2 separate regions of the Homo sapiens genome follow, and region 2 is linked to region 1. The links come from fine-mapping of genetic effects on gene expression. Tissue or cell type: whole blood. Region 1 holds a variant in brackets; the other region holds the start of a gene. All regions are shown on one strand. Distances are from middle to middle.

Region 1 (8,097 bases):
GCGTGATCTCAGCTCACTGTAACCTCTGCCTCCCGGGTTCAAGTGATTCTCCTGCCTCAGCCTCCTGAGTAGCTGGGATTACAGGCGCCCACCACCACACCCAGCTAGTTTTTTGTATTTTTAGTAGAGCTGGGGTTTCACCATGTTGGCCATGCTGGTCTTGAACTCCTGACCTCAGGTGATCCACTTGCCTCAGCCTCCCAAAGTGCTGGGATTACAGGCATGAGCCACCGCACCCGGCCAATTTTGTTCTTTAAAAGGGTGCATGTTATAGTCCTAAGCAGATAAAACCTATGCATTTGGCAACATTGAATGTATAACATCTTTTAAACATTCGCCAATTTGTTTAGTAAAAACCGAGATCTTATTTTAATTTATATTTCTGTGGTTTATAGTGATGTCAAACATCGTTTAATATGTTTGTTCAATTTTCATTTTTGGGGAGAGTTACTCGTTAACTTTAAAAAATATTTTCCTTGTTTATAGTAATTATCTAACTTTTATAGTATCCAGTTTACAGTTTCTTCAGAACTTTAGCTAAATCCTTTTAGGCTTAAAGATCACCAAGTAGAAGAGACTATAAAGATGTGCTTTTTTTTTTTTTTTTTTTTTTTGAGATGGAGTCTCGCTTTGTCGCCAGGCGGGAGTGCAGTGGCGCGATCTTGGCTCACTGCAACCTCCACCTCCCGAGTTCAAGCGTTTCTCCTGCCTCAGCCTCCCGAGTAACTGGGACTACAGGCACACGCCACCATGCCCAGCTAATTTTTGTATTTTTAGTGGAGACAAGGTTTCACCATGTTGGCCAGGATGGTCTCAATCTCTTGACCTCGTGATCCACCTGCCTCGGCCTCCCTGAGTGCTGAGACTACAGGCGTGAGCCACCGTGCCCAGCCAAAGATGTGCTTTTAACTTTTATATTTAACTACTTATGCCTTGTGGAATAAAATCCCAACTTCCTAAACCACATTTAGTAAGTCAGTTCCTCCTGTGTTTTATTTGCAGGTTTCTTGACAATATATAGGTGATATAACATGGCATAATCTTAACGTAAATGTTAAGTGACAAAACTAGTAATGGAAGCCAGATTTTGTTCAGAGTATTATACTACTCTGTCTCCATGTGGATAACCCACTATCACTTCAAATTTTTTTTTGAATCTAAAATCATCTGTCCCAACTCAGTTTTCTCTCTGCTCCTTATCCTGTTCAAAGGTACCACCTTTCTCCTACTCCCTTAAACATAAATTATTTTAGACACTTAATCTTCTTTATACCCTCTCAACAAGTTTGGCTCCCATATTTCCCCTCGTCACCCTCATTCAGATCTCCTTTCCCTTTCATATGTGATATATGGTAATAACCTATTTTTTTTCTTAACCCCAAGCTCTTCCCATCTGTCATGGGTATTACAGCCAAAATCATCTTTCAGAATACTGATGTAATCGTATGACTTCTTTGGCTCAAAAGTTTCTAAACTCCTGTTACCTAAAAAGTCAAGTCTAAATTTATACTTCAATTCAAAGAGTGTAATAGCCTGGTTCCAGCCTGTTCACCCAACTTTACTTCCCACTGCTCCCCAAAATAACATTGTGTTCTAGCAAGGTCTCATTTCTCAACTTCCTTTGGGTATGTCACACTCCCAACTCGGTATCTTTTTTTTTTTTTTTTTTTTTTTGAGACAAAGTCTCACTCTGTCACCCAGGCTAGAGTGCGGTGGCATGATCTCGGCTCACTGCAACCTCTGCCTCCCGGGTTCAAGCAATTCTCCTGCCTCAGCCTCCCGAGTAGCTGGGACTATAGGCACACGCTACCACACCCAGCTAATTTTTGTATTTTTAGTAGAGAAGGAGTTTTGCCATATTGGCCAGGCCGGTCTCAAACTTGTGACCTCAAGTGATCTGCCTGCCTCGGCCTCCCAAAGTGCTGGGATTACAGGCGTGAGCCACTGCGCCGGCCCCAATTCTATCTTAGCTTATAAATCCCACCCCACCAGAAAGAAATTATCCAGTTCTTACTGACAGTTTCTTAATTACATCATTACATCGGTTTTTCATGTATTTATGATAATACCATGCTGTTCCAGTAAGAAATAGAACAAATCATAGTTACTTAAACTCTTTAAAAATAAATAGCTATTTATTCCTCTGAAAAGTATTTTAAGGTTGGGGGCCTTTATACATAAATGCAACTTTTGAGATTACCTTTTTTTCTTTGTGTGTGTGTTTTAGGTTTGGCTCTTTAACCATGGATGGTGGCCTTCGCAACGTTGACTGTCTTTAGCTTTCTAATAGAAGTTTAAGAAAAGTTTCCGTTTGCACAAGAAAATAACGCTTGGGCATTAAATGAATGCCTTTATAGATAGTCACTTGTTTCTACAATTCAGTATTTGATGTGGTCGTGTAAATATGTACAATATTGTAAATACATAAAAAATATACAAATTTTTGGCTGCTGTGAAGATGTAATTTTATCTTTTAACATTTATAATTATATGAGGAAATTTGACCTCAGTGATCACGAGAAGAAAGCCATGACCGACCAATATGTTGACATACTGATCCTCTACTCTGAGTGGGGCTAAATAAGTTATTTTCTCTGACCGCCTACTGGAAATATTTTTAAGTGGAACCAAAATAGGCATCCTTACAAATCAGGAAGACTGACTTGACACGTTTGTAAATGGTAGAACGGTGGCTACTGTGAGTGGGGAGCAGAACCGCACCACTGTTATACTGGGATAACAATTTTTTTGAGAAGGATAAAGTGGCATTATTTTATTTTACAAGGTGCCCAGATCCCAGTTATCCTTGTATCCATGTAATTTCAGATGAATTATTAAGCAAACATTTTAAAGTGAATTCATTATTAAAAACTATTCATTTTTTTCCTTTGGCCATAAATGTGTAATTGTCATTAAAATTCTAAGGTCATTTCAACTGTTTTAAGCTGTATATTTCTTTAATTCTGCTTACTATTTCATGGAAAAAAATAAATTTCTCAATTTTAATGTAAAGAGTTCATGTGTTTCTTTGTATCCAGTTTGTGAAACAAAAGTTATCTTTTGAAAGTAACAATATAGATGATAATCATAAACTACTCAGAATATTGGATCTAGGGACAATTTTCTGTCTCTTCTAAACCCACTAATTCTAAATTTAGTATGAAGTTCTTTCATATACTTAGGCTATTATACAAATTGAAAAGGAACATTTCCTTTTTTTTTTTTTTTTGAGACAAGAGTCTCGCTCTGTTGCTCAGGCTGGAGTACAGTGGTGTGATCTCTGCTCACTGCAACCTCGGCCTCCGAGGTTCAAGCAATTCTCCTGCCTCAGCCTCCCAAGTAGCTGGGATTACAGGTGTGCACCACCATGCCTGGCTAATTTTTGTATTTTTAGTAGTGATGAGGTTTCACCATGTTGGTCAGGCTGGTCTCAAATTCCTGGCCTCAAGTGATCCGCCCGCCTCAGCTTCCCAAAGTGCTGGGATTAGAGGGTTGAGTCACCACGCCCAGCCGAAAAGGAACATTTTCTCTGAAAAATATACTCAGAGTTCTAGACTAAGGGATTGTGCTCAGCAAGAAATTATTTCATCCAACAGGACTTTTCTTTCTTTTGGTTTTGGTTTGTGGCTTTTCAGACTGGTGAAGTGTGATTACATAAAACCCGCGTATCATAAAAATAACATATCCTAAAGAGAAATAAATTTGTCTACCAAGAACATCAGTAACTTCATCAGTTTTAAGAAATGATTAGGATCTTAAGTGAGATTATGATGCATTATTGTAGTGGAGAATTTTAAGCGTCATATGTACACGTAACAAATAAATGCAAGGGTGAATGCCTTTATTTAAATAATACAGTTATCCACTGTCAGTTACCTGTTTAGTTTGAGAGTGTGTGGGGCAAGGAAGTATTTAATCCCTCTTTATTTTAATTTTCCATTTGACCGTCTAATATGGGTATCTTGTATAGTTTAAAAGCTTATATCACTGAATATTAGGTAAAATTTTACTCAAATTATGTGATTATTTGATATATTTGCCAATTTAGTTTTTATTTCAGCACCTCTAGCAAACAACACCAATAAATAGAACCTTTATGTGGCGATTGTATTTTTATTAATAGTATTGATAGGAATATATCTATTCCACAGTAGTATTTTTTGAGATTTACTCTTTTATTTCCCCCTTA[C/G]AGTGACATGGAAGAGAAGCATTCTTGCTTTCAGTATTTTACCCTCAAAAATGCATCCTCATTCAAAACATTTATTTTTCAAAACATTTTAAATAAATAAATGCATGATACCAGTCTGCTAATGTTCAGTGACTATTTAAATGAAATTAGCTTTAAAATAAGTTGTATCTTCACTTTAGTAGCTTTTTAAAAATATTATAATGTTTTGAAAAGATAGCAATTAATGGTATAAAAATAGTATATATAACAAATAGAAGATGGGTGTGATGGCTCATGTCTGTAATCTCAGCGCTTTGGGAGGCTGAGGCAGGGATATCACTTGAGATCAGGAATTCTAGACCAGCCTGGGCAACATAGCAAGAGCCCTGTCTCTACAAAAAAAAAAAAAAAATTTTTTTTTAATTGGCCAGGCATGGTGGCATGTGCCACAGTCCCAGCTACTCAGAGGCTGAGCTGCGAAGACTGCTTCAGTCCAGGAGTTAAAGGTTACAGTGAGCTATGATTGCCAGCCTGGGTGGCAGAGAGAGACCCTGTCTCAAAAAATTAAAAAAAAAAATAGAAGCGTTAGTAGATGTAACTCTTAGCATAAAACAAGTTATAGTACTGACAGCAGAAAAAATAAAAGTGAAATATGTGAATATAAAGTATATCAAAAGAGAGCTTTGGCCGGGCGCGGTGGCTCACGCCTGTAATCCCAGCACTTTGGGAGGCCAAGGCGGGCGGATCACCTGAGGTCAGGAGTTCAAGACCAGCCTGGCCAACATGGTGAAACCCTGTCTCTACTGAAAATACAAAAATTAGCTGAGCATGGTGGCAGGCGCCTGTAATCCCAGCTACTCGGGAGGCTGAGGCAAGAGAAAAGCTTGGACCTGGGAGGCGGAGGTTGCAGTGAGCCAAGGTTGTGCCACTGCACTCCAGCCTGGGCAACAAGAGTGAGACTTTGTCTCAAAAATAAAAAATAAAAAAATAAGGGATAGCTTCAAGTAAATAAACAGGAATGTAAGGTTAGGAAAGAAATGGGAAAAATAATCCCATTAAGTAAGTCTCCTAAAATTCGAGCTGCCGGCGGGGCACGGTGGCTCATGCCTGTAATCCTAGCACTTTGGGAGGCTGAGGCGGGCCGATCACCTGAGATCAGGAGTTCGAGACCAGCCTGGCCAACATGGTGAAACCCCGTCTCTACTAAAAATAAAAAATTAGGCTGAGCGCAGTGGCTCACGCCTGTAATCCCAGCACTTTGGGAGGCTGAGGCAGGTGGATCACGAGGTCAACAGATCAAGACCATCCTGACCAACATGGTGAAACCCCTTCTCTACTAAAAATACAAAAATTAGCCGGGCGTGGTGGTATGCACCTGTAGTCCCAGCTACTTGGGAGGCTGAGGCAGGAGAATTGCTTGAACCTGGGAGGCAGAGTTGCAGTGAGGTGAGATTATGCCAACCGCACTCCAGCCTGTCAACACAGCAAGACTCCATCTCAAAAAAAAAATAATAATAAAAATAAATAAATAATTAGCTGGGTGTAGTGGCATGCACCTGTAGTCCCAGCTACTTGGGAGGCTGAGGCAGGAGAATCACTTGAACCCAGGAGGCGGAGGTTGCAGTGAGCTGAGATCGCGCCTGGGCAACGGAGTGAGACTCCATCTCAAAAAAAAAAAAAAATCCAGCTGCCATTATTTTGGAGGTTACCAAATTATTGGCTTATAGACCTGATTATACCATGTCAAAAGAAATGCTTCTTAGATATTAAAAAAAATCAACATTTCTTTACAAATGTAGTGTCTTTATCCATAAATTATCCAGAAAAAAATTACAATAATCCTGAACTTTTTATGATTGTTTTGGTTTAGATTGTTTTTCTTTGGTTTTTGTTTTTTGCAATAGTGTTTACCTTTTGTGGTGGTCTGTGTTAAAAGTAAGAGATACATTGTTTAGAATTAAGAAAGGGACTATCAGTAGGAATAAGGACTCTCAACTGAAATGTCAACAATTTATTCCCCTTTCAGAACAGCCACCACCAGGGCTAGTCTTTTTTTTTTTTTTTTTTTTTTTTTTTTTGAGATGGAGTTTCACTCTTGTTGCCCAGGCTGGAGTGCAGTGGCGCAGTCTCAGCTCACTGCAACCTCCACCTCCCAGGTTCAAGTGATTCTCCTGCCTCAGCCTCCCAAGTAACTGAAATTACAGATGCCCACCAGCATGCCCGGCTAATTTTTGTATTTTTATTAGAGACGGGGTTTCACCATGTTGGTCAGGCTGGTCTCAAACTCCTGACCTCAGGTTATCCGCCTGCCTCAGCCTCCCAAAGTGCTGGGATTACAGGCATGAGCCACCGCACCCGGCCAAGAGCTAGTCTTTTGTTTCTAATTTCACCTCACTCCGATGTGTTTTATATGTTGTGCTTTGTCTTTGAGGAAGTGCTGCAGAAAATTTATAATTACTCAAACAAATTTTTGAAACTGAGAAGTGCTGGGGCAGACACACATAGTTGAAGGGAAAAACATTGAAAGAAATCTTTACTATTTTAGCTGGATTCTCCACCCCACATCCCACTTTTAAGAAGACCTGAAAAACTCTTACACTGTTGTTTTAGTTAGACTTGCTCCCCACTTGTCACTTGTAAGAAGAATCAAAGTCCAAATTCCTAAGAAATACTGAAAATGGAATAGGAAACAAAAACATCTGATCTGGAAATAAAAACTGGCAATATAATAATATCCGTTGTTTCTCTTTAGAGAGTAAATCAGCTCCAAAAATTTGCTGTGGCATATAAAAAGCAAGCCCAAATATTACATCAGGCTGTTTAATCGACTTAGCTCCTAAATGAATATATGAATAAGTTTATTTCTTTTGACATAAACAGAATGCACAAGGACCAACTGTTAGACATAGTCTTAGGAGTGATGATGGGGAACCTCAGTACAAGCTGCGTGGTAGACAACTAGGCATTGATGTCTGCTGAAATGCTGAAATGGATTCAGTAATGTTACAATGTTAGAAGTTCTAGAGAATTGTTCAATAAATGGTTAAAGATCAAAATAGGACCCTGGGGGAAAATGGTCTTTTGCATCTTTTTTTTTTTTTTGAAGAGTCTTGCTCTGTCACCCAGGCTGGAGTGCAGTAGTGCTATCATAGCTCACTGCAGCTTCCATCTTCTGGATTCTAGCAGTCCTCCCACCTCAGCCTCCTGAGTAGCTGGGACTATAGGTACGTGCCACCATGCCCAGCTTTTTTTTTCCTTTTTCTAGAGACAGCATTTCGCTTTGTTGGCTCGGCTGGTCTTGAACTCCTGGGCTCAAGCAATCCTCCCACCTCAGCCTCCCAAAGTGCTGGGATTACAGGTGTGAGCCCCTGTGCCTGGCCCTTTTACACATTTTTTGACTCATAAGAACTAATTTTTTTTTTTCTGGGATAAATTCCTGCTAAAGTTTCAAATAGGTTTCATTTTTCCAGTAAAAATGCACAAAACAAATGGGATCAAGGCTATGGCTTTAGGAGATTGCTTGTCCATCACCACTAAGTCCTGCAAATTACCACTGACAATTCTGTTGGAAGTTGAGTTAGTGGATCCTGTTTTTTTTCACTCCTCTATGAAAAAATTGTGTTTTTATGAACGAGGTCAGGAGGTCCATGCTTGAAAATTACCAAGTGTTGCATTAGGTTAGAGCTTCTCTTAAGAAAGCTTAAAACTCTTTCTTTAGAAAGAACATCTATTAATACAGTTTCTAGTTATGAGGGCCAAGGTCTAAAGGACAAGCCAAAAGAATGACAGAGGAAGGGGATTTAGGGCTAACAGGTGGTCCCCAGACATATTGGCTGAAAGGCAGTTCACAGCTAAAGTGTCATATGTGGGTGTTACTGTGCTCCTCATCCATGCTCTCTGTAGCGAGTCATTCTGGAACACTCCTGGTT
Region 2 (8,105 bases), 99 kb before region 1:
AAATTGAAACTACCATTACAAAATTATAACCAAGACAGTGAAAGAGATCTGATCTGACCAACTGCATTTTGCTTCTAAACTCCAAGCTGTCCTTGTTCATTCCTGGGCATAGGCTGAACTAACTTTGGAAGGATCTTAGTTTAGAGTTTATAGTTAAAACAAAGACAATAACAGCCTCTTCCCAAAACACCCTTCTTACCTGGGGACTAGACTACCTTTGTAGGACTAACAAATTAGCCATAAGATTAGAAATTATTGTTTAGAAATCATGCAGCTGGAGGCTACAAGATTCTGATCCTCCCCGAATTGTTCCTGGGGATAACACCACTATTGTAAAACCTACGATCAGTGCTTGAGATATTTTGCAAACCCTGTACTTGATAGATCAGCTGGCACCACTCAGATCAAAAAACTGGGTCATCTGATCTTGTGGCCGCCACCCAGGAACTGACTCAGTGCGCAGGAGGACAGCTTCAACTCTCTCTGATTTCATCTCTGATCCAACCAATCAGCACTCTCAATTCACTGACCTTCCCTCATCCATCAAATCAGCCTTAAACACTCTGATCCCTGAATGCTCAGGGAGACTGATTTGAATAATAATAAAACTCAGTCTCCCATACAGGGAGCTCTATGTGAATTACTCTTTCTCTATTGAGATTCCCCTATCTTGATAAATTGGGTCTGTCTAGGCAGCAGGGAACCTATTGGGCAGTTACAAAAGGAGCCTTTTGGGCAGTTACAAAATGATAGTGTTATTTGTCAACATGTTGATGACTAACATTTTCATCTGAGATGAGAAACTGCCCATCCCTTCATGGACGGAGGAGGCAGAATATGGAATGGTCAAATGTAATACCTCTCTTAGGTCCTCTTCAGTTGGATTCTACCAAGTGCTTCTTTATTTGTTCTTTTTGTTGTTGTTGTTGTTGTGGTTGTTGAGATGAAGTCTCACTCTGTTGCCCAAGCTGGAGTGCAGTGGTGCGATCTCAGCTCACTGCAACTCCACCTCCCGGTTCAAGCAATTCTCCTGCCTCAGCCTCCCGAGTAGCTGGGACTACAGGCATGTGCCACCACGTCCTGCTAATTTTTGTATTTTTAGTAGAGGCAGGGTTTCACTATGTTGGCCAAGCTGGTCTTGAACTCCTGACCTCCTGAACCACCCATCTCGGCCTCCCAAGGTGCTGGGATTACAGGCATGCATCACCACACCCGGCTTTTTTTTTTTGAGATGGAGTCTCACTGTGTTGCCCAAGCTGGAGTGCAGTGGCGCAATCTCGGCTCACTGCAACCTCCCAGGTTCATGCAATTCTCCTGCCTCAGCTTCCCAAGTAACTGGGACTACAGGCATGTGCCACCATGCCCGGCTAATTTTTTTTTTGTATTTTTAGTAGAGACGTGATTTTACTGTGTTGGCCAGGCTGGTCTCGATCTCTTGACCTTGTGATCCATCTGCCTCAGCCTCCCAAAGTGCCGGGATTACAGGCATGAGCCACCGCGCCTAGCCTCTTTATTTGTTCTGAAATAATATGAGTTTACAAAGTTGAAAGAGATTTCTACAATTCTAGGTATTTCAACTACCATAAACGAAAGAGCTAATGTTAGTAGATAAACTGTAGATAAACTGAAGATAGGCTTTGTATAACATTCAACATAAGAAGTAGCCATAAAATGAATTTACAAACAAAACAGCAAGTAAAGACATCTATAATACGATAGATTGAATTGCCATATTCTTTAGGATGAGGCCTGGAATATGCTGAACATACAGATTGCAGAGGCACTCAGCCCAAGATTAGTATTGGGCCTTCATACTCCACAGTTGATCATCACAGCTAATATAAGAATTCATGCAATGATTCAGTTATTGAGTTGAAACTAGCAGGCTGGCACTGTGCTAGACTCGAAAGATATACTGAAATAGGTAGGGCAGAAATCCTAGCCTGAGATTTTTTTTCTTAGAAATAACATTCATAGCAACTTGTGAAAAAAGCCATGCCTGTGTCTCCAGCAGCAGTGAAACAAGATGGTGGATCCCCTCACCATTAACCCCCATATGGAAAGGGTATATGTAATTCAGAAGGGATGTGTATTATGTCTGTTCTCACACTGCTATAAAGGAATGCCTGGGACTGGGTAATTTATAAAGGAAAGAGATTTAATTGACTCACAGTACCTCAGGGCTGAGGAGGCCTCAGGAAACTTACAATCATGGCAGAAGGGGAAGCAAACACATCATTCTTCACATGGTGGCAGGGGAGAGAAGAATGAGTGCCCAGCAAAGGGGGAAGCCCCTTATAAAACCATCAGATCTCATGAAAACTCACTATTACGAGAACAGGGTGGGGGAAACCAACCCCATGATTCAATTATCTCCACCTGATCCCGCCCATGACATGAGGGGATTATGGGAATTACAATTCAAGATGAGATTTGGGTGGAGACACAGCCAAACCACGTCAGGATGTGTAGACAACTGAAGTACAATAACATCAAGGCTGTTTTGACGTAAGGGCAGAATTTACAGTATGTGCTCTCACACAACTTGAAATCTTAAAGGCCTTCCGGGAACAGGGTTAATCAGAAACCAACATGGCAGATTAGTACCAAAGATGGAGTTACTTTAGCTTCCAGATTCCACCCATCAATCCAGCTCTTACAGTTTCACTCGCCCTCCTATTTGGAGATGGTCCCTGAGCTTTTAGGGAGGGTGGTTTCATATGATATAGCTTTAGCAGCAGCGCCCTAGCAGTGGAAAACAGATTGGGCCCAGAGAGATTCCAAATGAGGGAGATTCACAGGCTTTGTTGAATTATCTCTAGTCTTGAGAATACCATGACTTTGGTTTTCTCAGAAGTAAAACAAGAGATACTTCTTGTTTATAATTAATTTGAATAATTAATAATTTGAATAGTAGAAACATAATGCATGCAAGGATTACAATCAAAAGAAAATTTGTATGCCAGAACAACAAAGAACCTATTTCGTTGGGAAGCCAACTGAGAGCAGCGTGAAGAAAATTAAGGCCTGACACAGGGACTCACACTCGTAATTCCAACACTTTGGGAAGCTGAGGTGGGAGGTTCATTTGAGCCTGGGAGTTAGAGATCAGCCTGGGCAACAGAGCAAGTCCCCATCTCTACAAAAACAAACAAAAATAGCCAGGTATGATGGTATGCACCCGTAGTCCCAGCTCCTTGGGCGGCTGAGGCAGGAGGATTGCTTGAGCCCAGGAGGTCAAGGCTGCAGTGAGCTATGACCACTCTACTCCAGACTGGGTAACAGAGCGAGACCCTTTCTCTAAAAACAAGAAAAAATTAAAACCCAGTTCTCCTTTAGCGACATCTTGTAGCCACTAGCCTGACATTTTAAACACATAAATTAGAAACATGATGCAAGAGTGATTCAAGGTATTTTATATAGGAAATGCCTGGTGTAGTGTCTTGGACAGCTAAATAAAGGTAGCTGTTAAAACATTAGTTTTATTCTATGCTCTTACCATTCCTCCCTCTCCAAGTTTTGTTTGTAGTCTGTGGCAGCAACCTAGTCTGTATTTAGTACACATTGAATAATCAACAATGAAATGTAAATATTGAGCACATTGTGTGTCAAACACATGTATTAACTCAAACCTCACAGAAACCCTTTGAGGTCGGTACTATTAACAATCCCCATTTTACATACGAGTAAACTGAAGCATGGATAGACTAAAGTAAAGTGCCTGAGGTCAACTAGTGAGGAGGCGGAGTGGCAGTCAAGTCGAGGCAGCCTAAGCCTACACTGCCTCTATGTTGCATTAATAAATTAATAAATCTGTGACCAAATAAATGAAGTGACATTTAGTAGCATCGAAAGATCCCGTGAGTAGGACTTCCTAAGAATGCTCTCCTTCTTTTCATGGACAAAATTTTAGTCTGTTTAAAATAAATTTTGGACCGGACACCGTGGCTCACGCCTGTAATCCCAGTACTTTGGGAGGCCGAGGCAGGTGATCACTTGAGGTCAGGAGTTCGAGATCAGCCTGTCCAACATGGTGCAACCCTGTCTCTACGAAAAATACAAAAATTAGCTGGGTATGGTGGCGCGCGCCTGTCATCCCAGCTACTCAGGAGGCTGATGCAGGAGAACTGCTTGAACCCCGGAGGCGGAGGTTGCAGTGAGCCAAGATCTCGCCATTGCACCCCATCCTGGGCGACAGAGCGAGACTCCGTCTCAAAGAATAAATAAATAAATTAATTAATTAATTTTGAAAACCTGTCAGCACTCATCAGAGCTTTACACTGCTGTACTCGGGACACTTGGGGCCGTAGACAAGCAATTAAATTGACTCACACGTGGTTAGAACCACGTCATCCTGATTCGTGAATCCGTACTCTCAACTACTAGAAGCCCTTTGTGGAATGCTCGGGGCGAACCTGACGCTTGAGCTCTGACACCACGCAGACACAGCCGGGGATTTAGGAGCTGGGTAGGGACTCCTGGGCCGGATGCCTCATCCCGGCATGCACCTCAAGCCCCGGTGACCACGCCTTCCGGCGAGCGCCAGGGAGCGCGTGTGCGCCTCGCCGCCCGGAAGCGCCGGCCGCTCCCTGCATGCTGGGAGTTGTAGGCCTCCGGCGTCAGCCCGCGGGCTGCCGCCCGCACTCTCCAAGAGACTGCTGGCGCCGGCGCCCGCCCGCGCGGCACCGACGCGGGGAGCGCGCTTCGCGCTGACTCAGCGGCGGCGGCGGCTGCGGCGGCGGCGGCGGCGTTAGCCGGCCCTCGCGCTCTTTCCCTTCCTGGGGCGCCGACCCCGCCCGCTTGCTTGCTTGCTTGCTTGCCTGCCTGCCTGCCTGCCCGGCGCCACGCAAGAGAAGGTGCCAGGGGACGCAGAGCGACTAGAGGCGCGCGGTCCCGGCCAGCACCGTCTCTGGCGTTGTAGCTGCGGCCGTGGCGGAGGACTACGGCGACAAGGACGAGGGCCGCTCTCCCAGCTCTCTGCGTGCCGCGCCGCTCCGCTCCGCTGGCTGACCATCTGGAGTGCAGGCTGGGAGGCGGGATGGAGTGATAGGGAAGGTGACTCGGGGCTCGGGGGCAGCGGGACCGGGACCAGGTTTGGTCCGCGTGAGGCTTCGAGGAAGTTGGCCGGGGCGGACCGGCCCGGGGGAGTCCCGACGCCAGGGAGGGTGCAGGCTTGGGACCCTCTATGGCGGTGCACCCCCTGGCTGGGCGGACCGGGTGGGGGTGGGTACGAGCCGGGGCCGCCGCCGAGGAGCGCGTCCCGAGTGCGTGGCCGGCGGTTGCTTGGTGTTTCATCACCCGAATTGCCACGAGGCTTCCTTTAGGGGAGGGATCGGGGGAGGGATGGGAGCAAGGCTAGCAGAGGAGGGTCGGCATCGCCTGTGGTTCCGAAGCCCGTTAGTCATCGTTGTAGCGTTATCAACTGTGGAGACCTCAAACTTGATTCTTCCCCCACCCCTGGACAAAAAGGAAAAGTGTTATTTCTGTGCAGTAATTGGCCAGCACGGACGCTCCATTTCTTCTCAAACCTTCCTCACCATCCTGCAGGACTAGAGAAGCATGAGGTTTCCCTGTAACCAGAAAAACGAGTACTTTTTGAAAGTGCTAATTAGTTGTGGCGGGCGGGGGTTGGGGGAGAGTTACGTTTTATTAAACCGACTTGTCAGCGTGGTGTTAAAAGGCTGGAAAGATTCAGTCGTAGTATTTGAAACAGTCTTCAGTAGGTGTAGAGGAATTTTTCCAAATTGTTTGATTCTTAATGGCTATCCAGGAAAAGTTAAGGCTTAATATTTTAAGTATGTTGCTTGCCTTCCCCCAAGAACCTTTGCAAGATGCATAATTGTTTACCGTATTGAAACATTTTTTGGGGTTTTGTTGTTGTTGTTTTGAGACGGAGTCTCGCTCGGTCGCCCAGGCTGCAGTGCAGTGGTGCCATCTCGGCTCACTGCAACCTCTGCCTCCCAGGTTCAAGTGATTCTGCAGCCTCAGCCTCCCGAGTAGCTCTATTACAGGTGCGCCCCGCCACACCTGGCTACTTTTTGTATTTTTCGTAGAGATGGAGTTTCACCGTGTTAGCCAGGATGGTCTCGATCTCTTGACCTCGCGATCCGCCCGCCTCAGCCTCCCAAAGTGCTGGGATTACAGGCGTGAGCCACCGCGCCCGGCCTTCCACTGCATATTGATCGTCCAAATGCCTTCTATGTGGGGGATTCTTTCTGTAGTGACAACTGTTAACTAGTTTGTTTCCTTGGGTTTATTGGCTATGTTTTCCTTAGGGCCACTTCATTTTTCTCCCGATAGCTTCAGAGTGACTTGACCAAGCTTAAGCACTTTTTCTTTTTTTTGACACAGTGTCTCACTCTGTCGCCCAGGCGGGAGTGCAATGACACGATCTCCGCTCACTGCAACCTCCCCCTCCCGGGTTCATGCGAGTCTTCTGCCTCAGCCTCCTGGGTAGCTGGGATTACAGGCGCAGGCCACCATGCCCAGCTAATTTTTGTATTTTTAGTAGAGACGGCGTTTCACCGTGTTGGTCAGGCTGGTCTCGAACTCCTGACCTCGTGATCCGCCCACCTCGGCCTCCCAAAATGCTGGGATTACAGGCGTGAGCCACCGTGCCCAGCCAGCAATTTTTTTTAGATGGAGTTTCGCTCTCGTTGACCAGGCTGGAGTGCGGTGGCGCCATCTCAGCTCACTGCAACCTCCGCCTCCCGGGTTCAAGCGATTCTCCTGCCTCAGCCTCCCGAATAGCTGGGATTGCAGGCATGTGCCACCACACCCGGCTAATTTTTGTATTTTTAGTAGAGACGGGGTTTCTCCATGTTGGTCAGGCTGGTCTCGAACTCCCGACCTCAGTTGATCTGCGCCCCCCTCCCCTCGGCCTTCCTTAGTGCTGGGATTATAGGCGTGAGCCACCCTGCCTGGCCAGCATTTTTTTAAAAAGCCATAGCAAATTCAAGGAAGCTTTTATTGGACTTCTCAATCAGGGATTCTTAGAAACTCCGAAATCGTTTTTTCTCTCTGTGGGCATTTTTCAGGGGAATGGACATCAGATTTTCTTAACATTTAGGGGGCGAAGGGAACCAGTGCCTTTCTTTGTGTTTTTCTGTCTTTTAAAAATGCTGATCTGGTATAAGAATGCCCCAAGTCGTTTCCATTCCACATGTTCCTACCTCTGACTATAAACAACGTATTGAGGGCTCACTATGTGCCAGCCATGCTCTGCATACCTTATCTCTTTGAAGCCTTTACAACTTTATGAGGCATATGGTCTTTTTCCCATGTCATAGAAAGGGTTCTCTCAGGTTTTGTAAGTTGTCCAAGTGGCCCCAATTAAAAAATGACAAGATGGGGATACAAACCCAGGTCTTTGAAATCCAAAACCTATGCTCTACTATGTCCTAGGGACATAGTGATGGATAGTCAAGACAGTCCTTGCCCTTTAAGATTGTGAGAAATGGCCGGGTGGCTCACACCTGTAATCCCAGCACTTTGGGAGGCCGAGTCTGGCAGATCACCTGAGATTAGGGGTTCGAGACCAGCCTGGGCAACATGGTGAAACCCCATCTCTACTAAAAAATACAAAAATTAGCCGGGTGTGGTGGCTCACCCCTGTAATCTCAGCTATTTGGGAGGCTGAGGCAGAAGAATCACTTGAACCCAGGAGCCAGAGGCTGCAGTGAGCCGAGATCATGTCACTGCACTCCACCCTGGGCAACAGAGTGAGACTGTCTCAAAAAAAAAAAAAAAAGATTAATGAGAGAAAACTAGTAAGCTGGCAGTGACAGCATAGCAGTGCTTAGGATGGGGCATGTAATCCAATTTGGGAGAGTTGGACAATAGAGGTCAAAGAAGTGTTCTTGAAAGAGATGGCTTCTAAGTTGAATTTCAAAGGACAGCAGGGGTTAACCTACTAACAAGAAGAAAGAGCAGTGTGCAAAGATGAAAGGTAGAATACCACTGGAGAACTGCCATATGGTTCACTAGCACTGGCCTTGCTGACCTGGTGTGCAGAATAGTGAGGAGTTATTCAAAAGTGTTTGGATCGTAATCTGAGGGCAGTAGGGAGTTACACTGCCTTGAAGTCTGCAAGTACGTTATGAACC

What was found. PIP is the estimated chance that this variant, and not a neighbour inherited with it, causes the effect.
Region 2: XPOT starts here. The variant in region 1 is fine-mapped to the expression of XPOT in whole blood (TOPMed, PIP above 0.99).

What each region holds. Positions count from the first base shown.
Region 1 is chr12:64,499,103-64,507,199 of GRCh38, forward strand. TBK1 (TANK binding kinase 1) reads left to right here. Exons shown (of 21, transcript NM_013254.4): 21 at 2,228-3,012. The coding sequence ends at 2,279. It overlaps LOC105369803 (a long non-coding RNA gene), which reads right to left. Exons shown (of 4, transcript NR_188079.1): 4 at 7,014-8,097. It also overlaps a transcript of RASSF3 not described here. Among named protein-coding and RNA genes, the nearest start is that of TBK1, 51 kb to the left of the region's middle. The variant C/G (reference allele first, on the strand shown) is at 4,190.
Region 2 is chr12:64,399,750-64,407,854 of GRCh38, forward strand. XPOT (exportin for tRNA) reads left to right here and starts at 4,643. Exons shown (of 25, transcript NM_007235.6): 1 at 4,643-5,055. RefSeq lists enhancers at 4,218-4,267, 5,365-6,241 and silencers at 4,658-4,817, 5,148-5,257.